Linked DNA regions of Homo sapiens. The protein of the gene in region 2 purifies or fractionates together with the protein of the main gene of each other region. This does not show direct contact. Each region holds a gene or a part of one and is shown on either strand. Other genes may lie near its edges.

Region 1 (4,083 bases), on a different chromosome or scaffold from region 2:
TCTCTGGAGATGAGATATATCAGCCTGGGCGCTGGGTCCCTGGAAATTGGCACAGCGCATGCTGTTGGCTGGTACTGCTGAATGAATGCTATTCCAGTCCTTACCCAGACCCTATCCTGACTCTAACTCCTGAACTGCTATCAGCTCTGAGCCTGGCCTTTCTTTACACTCATGCTTCAACAATTTGCACTGCTCCTTGGTGACAACATGCATTCACTACAGTCACATCCAGCCCCACCTCCAGTCCACTTGGAAACTGGTGTTCCATAGGGTTTGCCCTGCCTGACCCTAAGCCCCTTTGCAGGGCTACCCCTTGGCTCTGGCAACAGGAGGCTGAGTTGTTTCTCCACCATAAGGTCAGCTTTGCATGTACCCAGGACACAGGCACATTCTCTTGTCCAGGGCAGGCCTTTGCAAAATAGCTGGAGTTTGGGCTCAAGCAAGGACCACAAGTCAGAAGAGACAAGAAATGTCTAAAGAGGGATTCACGTGCCTGGCTTCTATCAGTCTGACGGACCAGGCAGGTTGATGGAAGAAGCTCTCTGGGTCCCTCCCCAAACAACATTTAATACGCAGCTGAAGGACTGAATGACAAACTTTATTAGAAACGCTCTTCATTCATCAGTCAAATTCACATTAAGGTGGGGGCAGTGGGGTGGGGAGGAAGAGGCAGTGCTGTCTGGGGCTCTGATATCCCACTGCTGTGATGATTTCCAGTTAAAAATGAGTCTGGGCAGAGAGTGTCTGAAACATATAAGAGGTGGCAGCAGCAGTGGCGGCGGAGGCAGCAGCAGCATTCCTGCGAGAGGACCAGGCTCGGAGCAGGTAGAGAATGTGTCTCCCATATCCACCCTTCCAGTCACAAGGCTGCCCCCATGGACCTCAAGCTGATAAATAAACAGCACATCACACACACATTTGAAACAGGAAACAAACTTGTAGAAGTCTCCTAAAGTGAAAAAATAATTTGCTCAAATAAAGCTTTGTGACAGCCATGCCGCACCCTGAATGGACGTTGCCCAGAGACCCTGACACTCCAGGAAGGCCCCCCAACCCAGGACACATCAGACTTGGGTGTCACAATGCCCCCAGTTCCCCCGTTAGCACCTTTGGACTAAGTACTGTCCTCTCCGCATTCCTCTTTTAAAATGCAAATGCTACTTAAAATAATGGTAAGGATATGCTCTTCCCTGGGGCAAACCAGTCAGACTCATCTTCCCTGAAGAGAGGTGTCTGGGCATCCAGAGAACTGTGAGTCAGTGGCTGGGAAGGGGAGCACGTGGAAAGGGGTAGGTAAACAACGTTCAAAGAGGTAAGCCGGAAGGTGTCTCCACACTGCACTGTCCACTTGCCAGGTCTGCGGTTGGGCCTCCTGGGAACAGTCTCTCAAAGTGGCACAGAGTCCTAAAACGGTGTGACAATCCTGCCGCCCTGGCAAGGCGTATGGGCCAGGAGGGGCACGGCGTCAGGCTTTCATCATTCATTATTCAGAGGCAATTTTCCCCCTGCACTGGCTAATTTCTCCCTGGCCCTGTCTGCAACGGGGCACACAATAGAAAGTCTCCTGCCTAAATGTTTTATTCATTCTCTTGAATAAGGAAACAGGCTCTCTGATCAATACGGTGGCTGCTGTGTCCTGGTTGGTGGCAGGATTTCCAGGAGGTGCAGACTCCAGGCTCTCTGTGGCTCCGAAGGAGGTGTCTGACTTGGGAGGGCTGCCTCGAGGGCAGTAGATACTGTTGGCAAGAGACCTTTCGTTTCCAAAGTTGGTACCACATCCTGGTCTTTGAAAGAACTGAGTGTCCTGGGGAGCCAGGAGAAGGGTAGATCCTTTCCCCTATGTGCCATGGGACTGTGAATGACAGGAGGGTCGGGCCCTGCGGTGTGTGTCTGTGTCTGTGCTGCCCATCAGGCTTGGCTCACTGGTACTGCAGATAGTTTTTGAGAGACTGAGGCAGGGGCAGGGAGCTGATGTCCTGCAGGCGCTGGCGGCCCAGGGCCGAGCGGATGGATCTCCGGCACAGGTCCATCAGTGGCAGGGGCTCGGCTGCAATGAGAGGGAAGCAGTTAGAGTGTGCCCTGTGCCATCCTGGCACCTTCTCATCCCAGCCCCCACTGCATACCGCCTCCTGCCTGCTCCTCTGAGCTGGCCTTCAGGGTCAATGGCTTCTCCTTGGAGAAGATTTCTCTGGTTACATAAGCTGAAGGCCTAGAGGAGTGTTCATTAGACTGTGGAATGCAACCAGTGAGACTAAAGAGTCACAAAATCAATTCAATGGGTGGTGACCAGCCATAATTTTTTTTAAAAAAAGAGAAAATGGGAGCAATACCCATAGCAAGGATAAATATTGTTTCATGAAAGCCTTGTCTCTGGTCTCTGATGTAGGTGTTCAGCGTGTCTTTTTTTTTTTTTTTTAGATGGAGTCTTGCTCTGTCGCCCAGGCTGGAGTGCAGTGGCACAATCTGGGCTCACTGCAAGCTCCGCCTCCTGGGTTCACGCCATTCTCCTGCCTCAGCCTCCCTAGTAGCTGGGACTACAGGCACCCGCCACCAGCCCGGCTAATTTTTTGTATTTTTAGTAGAGACGGGCTTTCACTGTGTTAGCCAGGATGGTCTCGATCTCCTGACCTCGTGATCGCCCTTCTCGGCCTCCCAAAGTGCTGGGATTACAGGCGTGAGCCACCGCGCCCGGCCTGGTGTGTCTTAATGTGAAAAGGACTTCTCACTTCAGGTCATGATGGAAAATGTTTAAAAGCTGGTGGCCTTGGGTGGATCTGCAGAGGGGTTTCCTCTACAAACAGGTTAGATTCTGAGAGGCTGTCTGAAATGCCTGTGAACCCTGAAACTTCCCCTATAGCTTTCCTTGATGGTCAGCAGCGGGTTACATTTTCTTCCAGCACCTAGTTCTGGAAAAATTTGTAAGTTAAAATCCATAAATAATGGAACCACTGGACATAGGACCAGTTAAACCAACTTTAACTAGGTTTATTGCAGACCCCCTTATTAAGCTCTTATTCTGGTCCAGGCCCTTTGATTAGCCCTGGGGATACAGGGATAACTAAGCTAGCACCAGAGGCAGCTCTGGAAGAGGGTGGGGGCAGGTAGGGGGGTGGTGGAGGCTCATGATCTGGGATTTTAAATAGGTGAATCATTTTAATAGAGTGTAATATATGCAATAATTCTTAAATATACAGGTACAGAAACTGGGAATTTCTTATATAGAAGAGCTGTTTGAAAGCTTCACAGAGAGGACACATAATGGGGTTTTGAAGAGTGAATAGGAGGGTTAAAGGCACATAAGGGTGGGGAGGGTATCCTAGGCAGAGAGAACAGGCAAAGGCAAAGGAGGAATAAAACAGGACAGCCTGGAGGTTTGTGGGGAGAGGAACAGTGCTGATCAGTTAGCATCAGCTGGAAGGAAGATGATGATGGTGGTCACATGGCATCTGGTATGGTTTGTACAGGCCTGGTTTCCCCAGTCCTCCAGGAGTATGCTGGAAGCCTGAACCTGCATCTTAATACTTTTTTGGTAATAGAATAAATGATATTTCATAAACATCCTATAATGTACTAAGATACAACAAAACTGTTGAGTGGTAAATACTAACACAAGAGTTGTGATAGGAATAGTACCACAGAGAAAGGCCCTCTACAGATCCACCCGAGGCCTGCAGCTTTCAAACATTTTTTTATCACAACCTGCAGTGAAGTACTTTTTACATGGGAATGTAGTCAAGAGTCGAGAATATGTTTTATAGGAATTTTTATTTACCTGAGCTGCAGAGTTAATAAGGGGAGCCATTAAAATTAAAGTGGGGCTTGGGGAGCATGCTTTGGAAGCTGTGCACAAGAGTACATCCAGCTCTCCTTCACTTGAGGCCAGATCCCAAGGCTATCTGCAGGGAGCACTAGTGACTCCAAACACTCACCTCTGTATCCTCTTTTTTATCTTTTTTTTTTTTTAATTTTTTGTATTCTCTTTTTAAAATAATTATTATTTTTATTGTATAATTCCACTTGTACAAAATCTTCAGAATAGTCAAATATGGAGACAGTATATCGATCCTCATACAAAATGAGGCT
Region 2 (2,966 bases):
GACCAGCCTGGCCAACATGGCGAAACCCTGTCTCTAATAAAAATATAAAAATTAGCCAAGCGTGGTGGCGGGAACCTGTAATCCCAGCTACTTGGAAGGCTGAGGTAGGAGAATTGCTTGAACCCAGGAGGTGGAGGTTGCAGTGAGTGGAGATCGCACCATTGCACTCCAGCCTGGGCGACAAGCGAAACTCTGTCTCAAAAAAAACAAAAACCAGAAGCATAAACGGTCACTCACCTCAAAGGTGCCAGCCTTAAGCAGGGTGACTTGGTCATGCTGAGAAAGGTCACGGAAGCCCGGGATGTGTTTGGCAAACTCTACCACCTCCCGCACAGCGGGCGTGAAGCTCATGGAGAAATCCTCCCAGATCTCCTGCACCGTTCGCCCACTGCGTCCATGCGGGTACATGTTCATAGGACATGCCTGGGGGAGGAAAAGATTGAAGGAGGGGAGTGTCAGCCAGGCTGGGTCAGATGGACGCCCCGAGCAGAGCTGGACCCCAGATTCTGCCTGGGCTAGGGGCTGTGGCCCTGAAGGATGGGTCTTTCAGATAAAGTAGCAATTAGGTGCCAGGTGGAGATTAGGGATTCCCAGGCAGAGTCCAGACTGCAAGGCAAGACATTTTCTCCTGGGAAGATGCTATCCCCACACTCAGCCTCCAGGAACCCCCAGCTGCCCTACACTAAGTCCATTCTGCCAGGCCCCCCCAATCTTCTTAACGCACTCGCCCGCCCCCATGCCCTTACCAGCAGAACATTCTTTGAGTTGCCCTGCCGGGGACTGTTGGCAGGTGCCTTGCCTTCTGGGGCTGCATACACGTGGGTGGGGCATAGACGGTGCCCGTTGCTGTTGGACTGGTGGCAGCTGTGGTGTGCAGGGCCAGGAGGCCAGGTGGGAGGGTAGGAGGAGGGAGCCTGGCGCAGACCATTTAGGGCCTCGTTATGACGCTGGGCAGCCAAGGTGTTGTTGTCATTGGGGGCAGGTGGGCAGCCCTGATTTTCCCAGCGATGTGGGGTGGTGGCTGGAGGGCTACCTGATGCATGGTTGGCATTGAAGTTGCCAGGTGAGCTGCCCAGCTTGTCATGGGCGTAGGTGAAGATCTCTCGATGGGCCCGGGCCACCTGGGATATCACATCCTCCACTGTGGGCTCAGGGCTTGGGGATCTGGGAGGCGTCAGCTGTTGTGGAAACTGGGAGAAGCCCACCAGGGGTGAGGGGACCGGAGCAGGGGGTGGCGAGGGGCCCATGGGGCCTGGGGTGGGGTGCTGGGTGGGTGAAGTCTCCAGCGGGCACTGGCTGCTCAACTGGTTGTTGGCCAGGTTCATGGCACTCTGCATCTCAGCAAGCATCCGCTGCTTCTCTCGTTTGGGGATGCGCCCAAAACGCACAGCTGCAACAGGATGAGAACAGCATCAGGAAGTTCTCAACCATGCTCACGTGCTTCTCTTCCTTCCTTCCTCCTGAAAGGGCAAGGCCCTGAAGGCTTGGGGTTTCACATCAAAACTAAAACCAGCAAGTCCCCACCCATCAAGGGGGTTTCCCTAGGAGGGATTGCTGGTAGGAGGTGACCCGAGGGACCAATGGGATAGAAGTATATGTTGACCCAAGCAAATGAAGGATGGACATCCCCTGGCACATGTGATTCACAGTATGATGTGTCTCCATTTGTGACTTTTTTAAAGGGAAGGATTAATTCAGAAACTTTGGGCGGAAGAAGGGGGGAGGATGTGGGGATGCTGCCTCACCGTCTCGAGACATGCCCACAGAGAGACACTTCTTGAAGCGACATTGCTGGCAGCGGTTGCGATTGATGCGGACGATGGAGCAATTCTCATTCTTCAGACACCTTTTGTACTGGATGTTCTGCTGGATGCTCCGACGGAAAAAGCCCTGGAGGGCAGGGGTGGTTAGTGACCACCTCCATCATGGCTGGGCCTCTGTGTCCAGGGGGAGGGGGCCACCTGCCCCTGCCCTTACCCCCAGTCCGCCTCACCTTGCAGCCCTCGCAGGCGTGCACACCGTAGTGGAAGCCCGAGGCAACGTCCCCACACACTTTACACAGTAACACCATGCCATTCAGCTCTGTGGAAGAGACGGGCAGCAGGTGAGCAGGAGAGGCCAGGCTGAGTGGCCACAGGTGTGGAGGCTTTCTGGGCCGGAGATCCAGGGAGGGAAAAGCTAAGGAGGAACTCCAGTGTTGAGGGGCACTGGAGTGACAAAACTGGGCTGAAGAGGGGCTGGTGCCACTCTAGGAGAAATCCCTGAAGCCAGAATAGGTCCTGGCAAGACTGGTGTCACGTAAAAACCCATTCCCAATCTGGCCCTGGCCTGCTTCCCTTCCCCCGAATCAGCTGGAAAGGTACTCACTGGTGATGTTGCTGGTGCTCTTGCTGGGGGACACTCGGCTGCTGTCCTCCATGGCCACTTGTAGACTCCCAGGGGGGCTCCCATTATAGAAGGAGGAGGAGGATGACGACGAGGAAGATGAGGAAGAAGGGGAGCCGTCATCACTCAGGCTGGGTGGAATGCTCCCAAAGGAGCGAGCCGGGTCTTGGGTGAGGGAGCCAGTGGGGGATGGTGGGAAGTAGGTGGGACAGCCTTGGGTCAGGGACTGGAAGCTGCCATTGGAGTTGTCACTATAGAGGGATTCAGGGCTGGTGCGGCTTGGGGAGGAGCCACTGGAGCCAATGTAGGTGATGACGCCACCTGGAGAGAGAACAAAAGGAAAGGGGGTGTCAGCCGCCATGTCTCCGGACCTAGGGTGCCACTGTGCTCATCCCCACCTGTCTGCCCAAAACATTGCTGGCCACTCAGTTCACCATGTGGAGCCCCTAATCTTGGAGTTAATAAGCAATTCCCCAACACACAGTAGACATGGCATGGCCAAGCAACACCTACGACCCTTTGCAGGCCACCTTCAGCTTCTGCTTTCAGTATGAGGCATGACCCCTGTGGCATCTCGCATA

Evidence for each region.
Region 1: the proteins of NR1D1 (region 2) and SPSB4 purify together in Homo sapiens (affinity purification with western blotting; 2 studies listed by BioGRID and IntAct, with this or other methods). This does not show direct contact.

The regions. Positions count from the first base shown.
Region 1 is NC_000003.12:141,145,106-141,149,188, reverse strand, and holds the end of SPSB4 (SPRY domain-containing SOCS box protein 4), read right to left. Parts: intron 2,048-4,083; coding exon 1,920-2,047; 3' UTR 578-1,919; downstream 1-577. UniProt on the Homo sapiens protein: Substrate recognition component of a SCF-like ECS (Elongin BC-CUL2/5-SOCS-box protein) E3 ubiquitin-protein ligase complex which mediates the ubiquitination and subsequent proteasomal degradation of target proteins.
Region 2 is NC_000017.11:40,094,698-40,097,663, forward strand, and holds part of NR1D1 (nuclear receptor subfamily 1 group D member 1), read right to left. Parts: intron 2,707-2,966; coding exon 2,368-2,706; intron 2,083-2,367; coding exon 1,994-2,082; intron 1,891-1,993; coding exon 1,746-1,890; intron 1,391-1,745; coding exon 747-1,390; intron 424-746; coding exon 238-423; intron 1-237. UniProt on the Homo sapiens protein: Transcriptional repressor which coordinates circadian rhythm and metabolic pathways in a heme-dependent manner.